Regions from separate parts of the Homo sapiens genome. Here region 2 is linked to region 1. The links come from fine-mapping of genetic effects on gene expression. Tissue or cell type: whole blood. Region 1 holds a variant in brackets; the other region holds the start of a gene. All regions are shown on one strand. Distances are between the middles of the regions.

Region 1 (8,603 bases):
AATTCCCCAGATCACTGCACTTGGACAGTGAGACTCTGGGCCCCTCGCCCCTCATGATTGTCTAACTGACCACTGGCTGCCTGCTGACTGACTCCTCTTCCTCACCCTTCCGTTAATTCCTGTTTTCTTACACATCATTACATTTCTTCCCTGCTATATAAGCCCCTCATTTCAGTTGGTCGAGGAGATGGATTTGACACTGATCTCCCATCCCCTCGGCTGCAGCATCTGATTAAACCCTTCTTTCCTGGCAGTCCCCGTTGTCTCACTGACTGGCTTTCTGTGCAGCGAGCAACAGGTCCTAGACCAAACCCTTGGCGTTTTGGTAACATCTTTCTGCAGCACCTCCACAGCTCCAGGGAAAGTGGGTTTAGGGGTTCTCCTGGTGATTACTGACCCAGCGATGCAGACCTCAGCGAAGGGAACAGTGGCTCTGAGAGGGCTCTGGTCTCAAGGGCTCAAGGGAAACCATCCCTGGAGTGGTGGTGACTCCAGGCCTGATACATACCTGCCTGCTGTGTGTGTGTGTGAGTGTGTGAGTGTGCAAGACGTCAGTCCAGAACTAGCTGGACCCAGAATTGGCAAAGGCACCTTTCCTGCCTGGATGCAGTTATTTGCCTCTCAGTTCTGCATTAAATGCTGGAGTTGCTGCTGCCACGCTGGGCTGAGTGAGCCAGCCAGTTTCTTGGTGGCCTTCTCCATGTTCCTGGCACAGTATTAGCCCAGAGCACAGAGACTAGAAATGTGAGCAGTTATTTCTGCCATGACAACGTAAGCCTGATGGAGAGGCCTGGAGGTTGATAAACACTGTTGTTAGTGGGTTTACATTTGGAAGAATCTACTCCGACCCTATACCTTACTGCAAAAAAGGCTCTCGTGAATCAAATGTCTAAATATGAAAAGAAAATATTAGAAAAGTAAGTAGAAAATATAAACTTATGTGGAGGATGATAATTTTCTTAATTTCAGAATTTTGAAAGCCACAAAAATGTCAGCACCTTTGAGGAAAACTCTAAAGATGTTCAGTGATGAAAAAATGTCACAACGAAAGCCAAATAAAAAGAGGATGCCAGAAAAAGCTTGGTTATAGGTGGTACAGGTGCCAGAGGCAGGGGATGTGTGCTCATGACATCTGAGCAGAGGGAGAGAAGGACCCACTCACTCCCACCCGTGCCCATGATACCTTAGCAGAGCGAGAGAAGGACCCAGCTGCTCCCACCCACAGAAACACTGGTCCATGATCAGAAAAGAGAGCCGAGAACAGCATGAAGCCGTGCCATTTGTCTAAAGTGAAGATAAAAACCAACATTAACAAAGTTGTGTTAATAACTTTTTTGAGTATTTAAAAAATATTTTTAAAATTTAGAGTCAGTAAAATTCACTCTTTTTGGTGTCCAGTTGTAGGACTTTTGACACTTGCAGAGTCGTGTAATATTCCCATAATCAAGATGTAGACCAACCTCACCGCCTGCCCCCCACCGCCACGCTGGCAGCCTCAGCTCTGTTCTCCATCCTGGCAGTTTGCCTTTGCCAGAAGTCACATACATGGACTTGTTCTGCGCATAGCCTCTTGAGACTGGCTCCTTTTATGTATTATGGAAAAATCGCCATTAAATGCATGCCCTTTGTTTACTGACTCACCAGTGAAGGACATTTGGAGTGTTTTCAGTTTTTGGTGATTATGGATAAAGCTGTTATAAACATTTGCATACACGTTTCTCTGTGAATGTAAGTTTTCATTTCTCTTGAGGTATGGGATTCTTGGGACATATGGTGGTGGACTTTTAATGTTCGAAGACACTGCCAAGCTGTTTTCCACAGTGGCTGGACAAGTTTTTCATTCCCACCATTAATATATGAGTGTTCTGGTTGTTCTGTGTGCATGTTACCACTTGATATCGTCAGGGTTTTTTTTGTTTTGCATTTGAATAGATGTGTAGTTGTTTTAATTGGCACTTCCCCAAAGGCTAACAATGTTGGACATCTTTTCATGTGTTTATTTGCTGTCTGTGTGTCTTCTTCAGTGAAGTGTCTGTTTAAATTTTTTGCCCATTTTTCTTTTGGGTTTGTTTTCTCATTAAGTGTTGAGGGTTCTTTAGGCAGTCTTTTGTCAGATGTGTAATTTCCAGATGTTTCTCTCTGTGGTTTGCTTTTTTTTTTTTTTTTTTTTTTGAGATGGAGTCTCACTCTGTTGCCCAGGCTGGAGTGCAGTGGCGTGACCTTGGCTCACTGCAACCTCTGCCTCCAGAGTTCAGGTGATTCTCCTGTCTCAGCCTCCTGAATAGCTGGGATTACAGGCGTGTGCCACCGTGCCTGGCTAATTTTTTTGTATTTTTAGTAGAGATGGGGTTTCACCATGTTGGTCAGGCTGGTCTTGAACTCCTGACTTCATGATCTGCCTGCCTCGGCCTCCCAAAGTGCTGGGATTACAGGCATGAGCTACTGCACCCGGCTGGTTTGTCTTTTTATTTACATTGAGAGTTTCCTTTGTAGAACAAAAGTTTTAGATTTTGATAAAGTAAATTTGGATTCATTTTCTTTCCTTTCCTTTTTTTTTTTGTTTTTTTGAGACAGAGTCTCACTTGGTCACCCAGGCTGGAGTGCAATGGTGCGATCTCCACCCACTGCAAACTATGCCTCCCTGGTTCAAGTTATTCTCCTGCCTCAGCCTCCGAGTAGCTGGGATTACAGGCATGTGCCACCACACCCAGCCAATTTTGTATTTTTAGTAGAGATGGGATTTTGCCATGTTGGCCAGGCTGGTCTCGAACTCCTGGTCTCAAGGGATCTGCCCGCCCCAGCCTCCCAAAGTGCTGGGATTACAAGTGTGAGCCACTGTGCCTGGCTGATTTTTTTGATTCATTTTTAATTGTTGCACAGCCTTTTATTCTTGGGATAAATCCCACTTGGTCATAACATATCATTTATTTATTTATTTTAAAATAGATTTATTACAATATAAATTACATACTACAATTTGTCAATTTTTTCTTATGGATTATGTTTTGGTGTCTTACCTAACAAGTGTTTGCCTAATCCATGGTCACAGATATTTCTCTAGTATTTTCTTCTAAAAGTTCAATCATTTTTTTTGTGTGTTAATTTTTGCATAAAATGTGATTTATGAATCAAGTTTTATTTATTTATTTGCATTAACTCCAACACCATTTGTTGAAAAGACTCATTTTTCCAGTGAACCACCTTTGCATCTTAAAGAAAATCAATATACTATAGTTGTGTGGGTCTATTTCTGGACTCTGTATGTTTCATTCACTTACATGTTCATTCATTTACCAATAGATAGGTCTCAGTGCTGCAGTTTTATGGTAAATCTTGAATTCAGGCAGTGGGAGCTCTTTAACTTTGCTATTCTTATTCAAATTTATTTAGAATATCCTAGTTCCTTTGCCATTCCATAGAAATTTTAGAATCAGCTCATTGGTATCTGTGAAAAACCCTACTAGAATTTTGGTTGGGATTACATTATGCCTGCAGATAAGTTTGGGGACAATAAGCATCTTAACTATCTGTGTCTTCCATAGTTGTCCAATCAATGAACCTGGTGTATCTTATTTATTTGGATTTTTAAAATTTATTTTATCAGGGCTTTATAGATTTCCACATACAGATCTTGCACATATCTTGTTAGAGTTATCCCTTAGTAGTTCATTTTTAAGTGCTATTGTAAGTGGCACTTAAAGCAATTGTTCATTGCTAGTATATAGAAATAAAATGGCTTTTTGTGTTTTGATCTTGTATTCTGTGAGCTTGCTGAATTCACTTATTAATTCCAAGAGTTTTTCTGTAGATTCCTTGAGATTTCCTATTTAATTATTTGGTCTGGGAATAAAATGTTTTATTCCTTCCTTTCCAATCTGTAAGTTTTAATTTTTTTCTCTCTCTTTGGTACTGTTTAGGACTTCCATTAAAATTTTGAAAACGAGAGATGAGAGTGGCTATCCTTGCCTTGTTCCTTATTTTAGGTGGGAAGCATTCAATATTCCACCATCAGGTGGGATGTTGGCTGTAGATTTTTGTAGTTGCTCTTTGTCAGATTAAGTTAGTTTCCCTTCTGTTCCTAGGTTGCTGACGGTTTTTTATCATAAGTCAATTGGTGAACTTTGTCAAATGCTTTCCCCACATCTCTTGAGATGGTCACATGGCTTTTCTTTTTTAGAGTGATAGTGTGGTGCATTATATTGATTCAGTTTCAATTGTTGCATGGCCTTTCATTCCTGGGATAATTCCCACTTGGTAGTATTGTATCATCTTGTTTATTTATTAAAAAACAGACTTACTGCAATATAAGTTACATACCATGAAACTCATCCATTTCCAATTCAATGATTTTTAAAGTAAATTTATTGAGTTATGCATCTATTGTCTCAATCCAGTTTTAGAATGTTGCCATCATTCTTGTGTTATTTCTTAAGATACTACTGGACTTGATTTGCTAATATTTTGTCAAAGATTCTTACATCTTTGTTCATCAGGGATAATTTTTGTAATTTTTTTCTTGTAATATTTTTGTCTGGTTTTAGTATTAGAGTAATGATGGCTCATAAAATGAGGTAAGAATTATTGTATCTCTTCATATTTTCTGGACGAGATTGTGTAAAATTGGTATTTCTTAAATATGTGATTAGAATTAACCAGTGAAACAATGTCGGCTGGGAGTTTTTATTTTTGGAGGGATTTTAGCTAAGAATTCAAATTTTGTGATAGCTATAGGACTATTCAGGAAATATGTTTTTTCTTTTGTGACTTTTGGTAGTTTGTGTCTTTTAAGAAATTGGTCTATTTCTTCCAAGTTGTCAAATTTATGGGCGTAGAGTTGTTCCTAGTATTTCCTTATTATCTTTAAGTGTCTATAGACTCTGAAATGATTTCATCTCCTTAATTCCTGATGTTGGTAACTTGTGTTTTCTCTCTTTTTTTTTTTCTGTTCAACATTCTGGCTAAAGGTTTATCCAGTTTATTGATCTTCCTTAAGAACTGATTATCAGTTTCATCAATTTTCTGTATTCTACTGTTTTGAGTTTTGCAGATCTCTCCTCTTATGTTTATTATCTACTTCCTTCTACTTTCTCTTGTTTTTCTAGTTGTTTAAAGGAAGAACTTAAATGATTGATTTGAGAATTTTCTTGTTTTTGAATATAATTATTTTATGCTATGAATTTTCTAATCCTGCTTTATCTGTATCCCACACATTTTGATATGCTGTATTTTCATTTTTACTTAGTTCAAAAGGTTTTCTGATTTCCCCTTATGTTTCACTTTTGACCCATGGATTATTTAGAGGTGAGTGGTTTAATTTTCAAATATTTGAGGGATTCATCGGACATCTTTCTGTTATTAAGTTTAATTCTGATAGGATCAGAGAATACACTTTATACAATTTCTATTTCTAAAAATTTGTTTTTGAACTTCCGTTAAGATTTGTTTTGTGACCTAGAGTATGTTCTATACTGGTGAATGTTTCATATACACTTGAAAGAAAGCATAGTCTGATGTTCTTAATGAATGATTTGACCAAATAAGTCCAATTGAGTGATTGTGTTGGTCAGGTCTTCCATATTCTAGCTGTTTCTCTATATGCTTGTTCTATTGGTTACTGAGGCAGGACTGTTAAATTCTCCAAATATAATTGTGGATTTGAATATTTCTCCTTTGAGTTATTGGATTTTTTTTGTTTTGTTTTGTTTTTTGAGACAGAGTCTTGCTGTGTGGCCCAGGCTGGAGTGCAATGGACCCATCTTGGCTCACTGAAACCTCCACCTCCTGGGTTCAAGTGATTCTCCTGCCTCAGCCTCCTGAGTAGCTGGGATTACAGGCATGCACCACCATGCCCAGCTAATTTTTATATTTTTAGTAGAGACAGGGTTTCACCCTGTTGGCCAGGCTGATATTGAACTTCTAACATCAAACGATCTGCCCACCTTGGCCTCCCAAAGTTCTAGGATTAGAGGCGTGAGCCACTGCGCCCAGCCAGATTTTTTTTTCATGTATTTTTAAACTCTGTTAATGATAGGTGCCTATGCATTTAAGCATTATGATATCTTCTTGGTAAATTGACTTTTTTATTATATGTAATGCCCTCTTTGATCTCTTGTAATATTTTTTATCTCTTTTAATATTTTCTAAGTTCTGCTTTATTTGACTTAATACAGCTAGCCCACATTTTTTATTAGTATCTCATGGTTTATCTTTTTTTATTCTTACATTTCGATGTATGTCATTATACTTAAAGTGGGTGTCTTTAGACAGCATATAGTTGGGTCCTCTGTTTTTTTTAAAAAAGTGTATTTTGGAAGATTGTAGAGTCATTGGAAGTTGCAATGAAATATACAGGGAATACCCAGGCACATTTTACCTATCCTTCTCCAATCTTAGCATCTTGTATAACTATAGTGCAATGGAAAACCAGGAAATCAACATTGATACAATCCATGGAGCTTATTCAGGTTTCGCTATTTATGCATGCATTCTATATGTGGGTATAACTTGTGATTTTTAACATGTATAGCTTCATATAATCAGCATGACAATCAAGTTGTTTAACTATATCATCATCATCAGACCTCTCCTCATGCTACCTCTCTACAGTCACAGCTCCATCACCGCTGCATACCTAATCCAAGGAAACCACTAATATGTTATCCATCTCTGTGATTGTGTTATTTAAAAATGTTATCTAAATGGATTC[A/C]TGAAGTATGCATCCTTTTAAAATTGGCTCTCCCACCCATTCAACATAGTTTCCTTAGGTTCATTCAAATTGTCACATGTATTAACAGTTTATTCCCTTTTATTGCTGAGTAATATTGCATGATGAGGATGTACCACAGTTTATTTACCCCTATGCCCATTGAAGGACATTTAAGGAGTTTCCAGTTTCTGGGCACTGTGCATAAATCTGCTATGTAGAGTTTTTGTATGAAAACAAGTTTTCATTTCATTGGAATAAAAGCTCAATTGTGCAATAGCTGGGTCATAGGGTGAGTCAAGTTTTAGCTTTAAAAAGAACAGCCGAACTATTTTCCGGAGTGAATATGGCTGTACCATTTTGCATTCCCACCAGCAATGAATGAATGACTTAGTGATTCTCAACCTCCTTGTGAGCATTTGATGTTATCACTATTTTTAAAACGTCTTTCTGACAGTTCTGCTGCGATGGTTAATTTCATGTGTCAATTTCACCAGCCCATGGGGTACCAGATACTTGGTGAAACACTATTCTGAGTGTTTCTGTGAGGGTGTTTTTGGATGAGCTTAACATCTAAATTGATAGACTGAGCGAAGCAGATTGCCCTCCCCACTGAAGGTGGGCCTTGTCCAATCAGACAAGTGTCTAAATAGAACAAAAATGGACCCTCTCCCAAATCAGAGGGAATTCCTCCTGCCTGCATTTGAGCTGGGACATTGTTGTTTTCCTGCATTGAGACTTGAACAGAAATATCAGCTCCTCCTGGGTCTTTGGCCTGCTGACCTTCATGTAGAAACCCCACCATTAGCTCACCTGATTTTCAGGCCTGTGGATCAAACCACACCATCAGCTCTCTTGGGTCTTCAGCTTGTCAGTCTCCATAAGTGCATGAGCCAATTCCTTATAATAAATGTTTACACACACACACACACACACACACACACACACCCCTATTGGTTCTGTTTCTCTGGAGAACCCTGACTAATGCAGATTTTGGTACTGACACTGGAGTTCTGCTGTGAAACATACCTAATGATAGGGACCAGCTTTGGAACTGGGCAGTGAGCAGAGGCTGGATGAGTTTTGAGATACTTGGTGGAAAAAGCCTAGATTTCCATGAAGGGACTATTGGTAGGTACATGGACATTAAAGGCAATTCTGGTGAGGGCTCATGAATAAAAGACAAGAGCTATAGAGAAAGCCTCTACCATCTCAGAGAATAACCATATCATCATGAAGAGAATGTTGGAAGCAACATGGACACACTGTTACAGACTACTGGGCGAGATCTCAGGTGGCAAACCCTAACCCTCTCTCTTAGACGGTTTTCTTTTTTTTTTTTTTTGAGACGGAATTTCACTCTTGTTGCTTAAGCTGGAGTGCAATGGCACGATCTTGGCTCACTGCAGTCTCTGCCTCCTGAGAGCAGAGAACACAAATTATTTGGAATTCAAAAGATTTGTCTTTTCTCCCCATTTATTTATATTTATTTGTTCATTCAATCATTTACTTAGATTACATGGCTCACAAATATTTATTTCATATTTTTGGTTATAATCCAGTACTATTTTATTATTTTGTTGCTCAAATTAATTCAATTTTTTGCCACTTGGAAATCTTTCAGTTACCTTTGACATATCCCCATCACTTTTTTTTTTTTTTTTGAGATGGAGTTTCGCTCTTGTTGCCCAGGCTGGAGTGCAATGGTGCGATCTTGGCTCACTGCAATCTCTGCCTCCCAGGTACAAGCGAGCCTGAGATATGGCCTCATGTGAAGGGAAAGACCTTACTGTCCCCCAGCCCAACACCCGTAAAGGGTCTGTGCTGAGGAGGATTAGTAAAAGAGGAAGGCCTCTTTGCGGTTGAGATAAGAGGAAGGCCTCTGTTTCCTGCATGTCCC
Region 2 (6,213 bases), 31 kb before region 1:
TTCTTGCTTCCAACAAGGAAGGCAAGTTTTCCTGCTTCCATGAAAGTTCCTTTCTGGAGTTTGAACTCGCTCCCAACAGGGAAGACAAGTTTGAGGGTTTTTTTCCTGCTTCTAAGATGATAGAGAGCAGTCTTCAGCCTAAGACCCATCCCTAGGTAAGTAACTGAATTGGGGTTTGTCTTGGCTAAAGGTAAAATTAACAACCAGCTGGTCTTAATTTTTCCTTATCATTAGAGTGTCCAGTAACCATACAAGTTGTGTGATCATTTGTTTGTTTTGCTTAACTGGTATTTTTTTTTGTTGTTGTTTCTTTCTGTTTTTGTTGTTTTGGTCCTTTTCCTATTGGGTTTGGCCAATTCTGACTTGATCAAATCCAAAGGAAAGTTCCAAATTATGTGGAACAAGGCCTCTGAAGTGGCTAAATTCCCACCAGAAAAGGGGTGGTGGGGGAAGAAAAAACAGCCAGCAAAAGGAAAAAAGGGGGGGAAGATTTTTGATTTTGACTACTTAAGGGGATTTATTTACATAACAAGGCCACCTTTTTGCTAGCCAGGCCAAACTGAAAGAGAAAGGATTGTCACCCCAACTGCAGTTCCATAGCTAAGGTTCTGTCTTCTTTTTTCCATGACAGCCTGGGTTTGGTTCCTAAATCAAGACCTTTCTGGTTTGATACTTGGTACTTCTGAAATAGCAGATATTTGTCCTAGCTGAAATATGTTGATGAGATCTTAAAAATTTTTTAAAAAGAAACTCAAATGGTTAAAAGTCATCTTAATTAAAAGCTAACATCCAATGTGTGTGTGTGTGTGTGTGTGTGTGTGTGTGTGTGTGTGTGTGTGTGTGTGTGTATTTAAAAGGGCTTCATGATTTTTCTTTTTTCTCTCTCCTAGGACCTTGTGTTTTTTGGGCAAAAGTTTTTTTTCTTTTCAGTTGACTGAATGCTATTTTCTTCATATAGTTCTGCTGTCTCTCCTTTCCCTTGAACGCTCTGCTGCATGAGGGACCTAAAATAGTTTATAATAGCCTGAGGTTCCTTAAAGAAAATGGAGAAGGCACCAGACTCCCTTTTGTGGAGAAAATTGTTTTTCCTTGTGTATCCCCAAGAGTGTAAACACACAAGTTCATGTCAGCTCCTAAACTGTTTGCTTTTGTATTGTGTTACCTGATTTTTTTGTTTATTAATTATTGCAACAGAAGCTACTCCTGCATTTTTAAGGAAGAGTATATTTTAGACACTTAGAAATATTTTTTTAATGTTTTTTAAGTACACTGTAAAAGCATCCATGTGGTCGAGCCTCATAATAATTCTCCCTTTTTGCAGACCCAGGATTCAGTGTGGCCTCTTCCCAGAGCTCAGAGATCCAGTTAAAAGATAGGTAGTCACTATCTAAATAAAATTGGTCTCCTGTGATCCAACCACCTCCCACCAGGCCCCAACTCCAACATTGGGGATTACAATTCAACATATTTGGGTGAGGACACAGATCCAAACCATATCACAGGCCAAGGCCAAGGCCGAGGCACGGTTGAGAAGGCTCAGAGGCACCTGACCAAAGTTTGTAACAGTTTTGATTGACAATACCAAATTACCTTACACTGATGTATACAAGATGCCCAGTTTTTCATTTTTACCAATCACCTATGTTTCCAAACGTGTTTATCTTTGTCAACCAGATATGCAAAATTAAGGTGTCTCCTTACAAACTTTCTGATAGTAAATATCAAAAGTTTGGGTGCATCTTATTTTCTAAGACTATGTCCTAAGTAATTCTGGATATGGCTAATGGGCAAGGTGTTCATCACTGTATTGTTTATAATAGTGAAAAACTCGAAGAAGCCTAAATATGCCTTAGGGGATTTGTTAAATAAATTATAGCACATACACAGGATGAAATCATTTACAGCCATTAAAAATCATGCATACATGCATAAGGCCAGGCTCAGTGGTTCACATCCATAATCCCAGCACTTTTGGGAGACTGAGGCAGGAGGACTGCTCAAGCATAGGAGTTCAAGAGCAGCCTGAGCAATGCAGCAAGACCCTCTCTCTACAAATAAAAAATTTAAAAAAATTATCTGGGCATGGTGACATGTACCTGTGATTCCAGCTACTCAAGAGGCTGAGGTGGGAGAATCTCTTGAGGCCAGGAGGTCAAGGCTGCAGTGAGCAGTGATTGTACCACTGCACTCCAGCCTGGGCAACAAAGCACAATCTCGTCTCAAAAAAAAAAAAAAATCAAGCATAAAATTTTGTGAAATGCTTATTTTTGAGTTTATGGAGTCCCCTCATTTTGGTCCCACCTGAAATCTTACACAAATTACTGCTCATAAATTTTTGCATTAAGTTTTAAATTATTCAAGTAATTGGCATGTGTGAAAAAGTATGAAGAAAAAATTGAAACACCAACATTCCCTTTCCCCAGTCATTCCCCTTTCTAGTAATAACTGCAGCCAGTTAGGTGAAGACTAATAGACTTTTTACTAAAATGTATCTAGTGTCACTGACCCTAGATAACATCCCTGCTTCCTTTTTAAAACAGATAGACTAAAACTGGAATCTTGTCCTTTAAATTTCTTCTGTAGCTGGTCACTATAGAATGTTTGTGCCCCCATCCATAGTTCGTATGTTGAAATCCTAACCCCCTAGTGTGACTGCATTAGGAGGTGGGGCCTTTGGGAGGTGATTAGGTCATGAGAGTAGGGCCCTCAGCAATGGGATTAGTGCCCTTATAAGACCAGAGAGGTCTGCAGCAACTTCCCCAACATGAGGACACAATGAGAAGACAGAAGTCTATAGCCAGGAAGCAGGCCCCCACCAGACGCTGAATTGCACCTTGATCTTGAACTTCTAGCCTCGAAAACTGTGAGAAATAAGGCATTTCTGTTGTAGCAGTTTGAACTAAGGCACAAGCGACATTGGTTAAAACTTACCTAAATATACTAGGTTATGTGAGGAACATGGAGCCATGATACTGAAAGGCTAGCACACCGGCGGGCCAGCAGGTGCTTAATGAAAGGGATACGTTTGCGTCTGTCCTGTTTACTTGCTTTGTCCTTCGCTGGGGCTTTCACTGTGCCACATCTCACTGTAGGGATGCTTTCTGTGCTAAGCTTGTTTCAGTATTCAAACCTTCATTTTGTAAGAACATGACAGAGCACCTGCCATGGCATTCACGCAGGTAGGGCTGGAGGCAGCCACCGACGTTTGTTAATTGCAGAGTTTTAACTCAAGGGGGACAGATGATCTCAGGACAGAATGACAAGCTGAGTGACAGCAGGAGGGACGTCACCGTACAATTCTCTCCACTTTTCTGTAAGTTTGAAAATCCTCACAGAACACCCAGAGGCACACAGTGTCCTGAAGTGGAAACGGCCAGGACAGTGTCCTTTCTCTTTGTTGGGCTGCAATTTCTGGACTTCTGTACAACTCTGACCAGCTGCCTGTCCCCTCCCTTCCCAGGGTGAGGTAGGAGCCACTATGGCAGGTCGGGGTCAGGGAGAAACAAACGGGGGATCTGCGTGGAGTCGGCCTCCCCCGGCTCCCCGGGGCGTCGGGATGCTGGGTGGGGGGCCCCACTGTCAAGAACCAGTTTAGTGCGACTGGGAAATCTGGACACTTGCTGGTTCTAGGGAGAGGAAGGTGGAATTAGGAATTCCCTTGGGATTGGGAGCGTCAGGAAAATATCCTTTTTGTTTTAAGAGGTGTGTATGTAAAGTCTGTGGGACAACGGGAAGGGATGTCTTTTGACTAATTACCTAAACCAAAATTGGAGCAACTATGATAACAGTTCAATGCTTTAAGACAAAGTGGGGGGTGTGCGGGCAAGCACTCCCTCATCTTGGCCGAAATTTTTCTGAAGAAACCCGCTAAGTCTCAATCAGCAGCATCAGGACTGACAGGAAGAAGCAGCCGCCACCCGCGCCCCAACCCTGCCCCGCCTCGGCGAGGTCAGACCCTCACGCACAGTTCCCTGCCTCCCACCACTACCTCCGGCCTTCTCAGCCCTGTCCACGGCTCCTGCGGTGGGCTCGGCCTTCGATGTCAGGGACCTCCCCGCCATTTCCTCTCAGCTCGCCAGCGAGGGTGCCTCGGGAGGGAGCCTCCAGTGGTGATTGGAGCAACCGCCGCTGGGGGCAGGACTCCAGGCAGCGCGCCTGCGCAATGCACTCCTGCGCGCGCCTGGAGATGTGAGGTAATTCTCCGGCAGGCCTGCGTGGCACTAGTGCGCATGCGTAAAGGCGCGAGGGCTACAAACGCGGCGGGAAGCCCGCCAGGGCCACGTGCGGCCGTCCAGGCTTGCGATTGGCCCGCTGCCGGGTGCCCCCGCGCATGTGCGCTGGCTTCCGAGGGGACCGGCCCTGGTTCTGGAGGCCCTCCCCACCAACGAGCAGTACGCATGTGTAGCGCCGAAGCTTCCTGTGAAGTGTGCGTGTCTGACGGATGACGACTCCACAAGGCGCTGTGGCCCTGGCAGCCTCATGAGGTTGCGGCTCTGCGGGACCACACCGCCGCGGGAGTGCACGGGCCCCAGCGAGTGAAATCTGCGGCAGCCCCCGCTGGGCCCGCTGTTCCTGCGCGCGCAGAGGAGCGTAGCCTGCCCCTAGGCCGCGTTCCCGTGAGCTCCATGCCCACAGTGGCCGAGGCCGGCCACAAGCCCACGGTCCCTTCTGCACGGTCCCTGCCGCGCTGGGGCCACCGTGGAGGCCCGGAGGGCCCTGGGAGGAGGGAGGAGGAGCAGAGGCTTTCGGGAGAACCCAGCCCTTCACCGGCCAGGGGAGGCCGCGATGCATCGCGACTGGTTGTGAAGAGCCAGGGGAAGAACTTTACCGTGCAGGTGAGTGGGAGACATCAGAACACCTGCCTGTCCTAAATACGAAGCCTCGAATCCTAACCTATAAAAGGTTACCTTAGGGTTTAGGGTTAGGGCTACAGATTAGAGCTAGGGATTAAGGTTAGAGTTGGGGTTGGGGTTAGGGTTTAGGGGTTAGAAGTTAGTTTTGGGGTTAGGAGTGGGGTTAGAATTAGGGTTTGGGGTTAGTGTTAGGGGTAGGGGAAGGATTGGGGTAGGGTTAGGGTTGGGCTAGGGTCGGGGTAGGGGTAGGGTTTTACGGTTAGGGTCAGGGTTTTAGTGTTGGGGTTAGGGTATTGGGGTTAGGGTTTGGGGGCTAGGGGATTAGGGTCAGGGGTGGGGGTTAGGGTTTGGGATTTGGCTAAGGTTTGTAAGGGTTAGGGTTTTAGGGTAGGGGATAGGGGTTAGGGTTACGTGTTGGGGTTGGGATTAGGGTTAGGGGTTACAGTTTAGGGTAAGGGGTTAGAGTTAAGGGTTAGGGTTAGCATTAGGAGTTACAGTTGGGTTAAGGGTTAGGGGTTAGGCTTAGTGTTGTTAGGGTTAGGGTTAGGGTTAGCATTAGGAGTTACAGTTGGGTTAAGGGTTGCAGGTTAGGCTTAGTGTTGTTAGGGTTAGCTTCAGGGTTCGGTGTCAGGGTTTGGGGTGGGGTAGTGGTAGGTTTAGGGGTAGCGTTGTGTGTTAGGATTTGTGGTTACGGTTCGGGCTAGGGTTTTAGGGGTAGGCATAGGTTCGAGTTTGGGTTTGGGTGTTAGGTTTATGGCTAGCATTAGGGTAGGGGTTAGGTGTAGGAGTAGGGGTTGAGGTTATGAGTTGAGGTTAGGGTTAGGGGTCAGGGGTCCGGTCAAGGGTTGGTGTTGGATTTAGGGATTAGGGCTAGAATTAGGGGTTAGGGTTAGGGGTTTGTGTCGGGGTTGGGTTGGAGGCTTGGGTTCAGGGTCAAGTTTAGGGTTGGGGCTAGGGCTTAGGGTTATGGGTTAGTGTTAGCAGTTAGGGTTAAGGTTTAGGCTTAGGGTTTAGTGCTTGAGGTGGGGGTTAGGTGTTAGGGGTTAGGGTTAAGGGTTAGTGTTTTGCGTTAGTGGTTAGGGTTAAGGGTTATGGTTAAGGGTCAGCGTTAGGGTCAGGGGTTAGGGGTAGGGGTTGTGCTTAGTTTTAGGGTTAGGGTTCCTGGACGGATGGTTTTCCTGCTTGGGAATGTTCCTGGGCTGTGAGATCCACTCTTCTGGGCAGGTGGTTAGCACCTAACGTTTTCCCCTTACTTCCCCCCAAATTCTTAAGTCCTTTGGTCCATTTCATTACTTCTTTTGGGGAGGGCCTGATTCCTCAGGGCCTCAGTGGCAGAACCAGCCTGAGGTCACCTCCCTGT

What was found. PIP is the estimated chance that this variant, and not a neighbour inherited with it, causes the effect.
Region 2: SYCE1 starts here. The variant in region 1 is fine-mapped to the expression of SYCE1 in whole blood (INTERVAL, PIP above 0.99).

The regions. Positions count from the first base shown.
Region 1 is chr10:133,591,436-133,600,038 of GRCh38, forward strand. No RefSeq gene overlaps it. Among named protein-coding and RNA genes, the nearest start is that of SYCE1, 30 kb to the left of the region's middle. The variant A/C (reference allele first, on the strand shown) is at 6,707.
Region 2 is chr10:133,561,469-133,567,681 of GRCh38, forward strand. SYCE1 (synaptonemal complex central element protein 1) reads right to left here and starts at 4,115. Exons shown (of 13, transcript NM_001143764.3): 1 at 3,989-4,115. The coding sequence starts at 4,061. It also overlaps the pseudogene SPRNP1.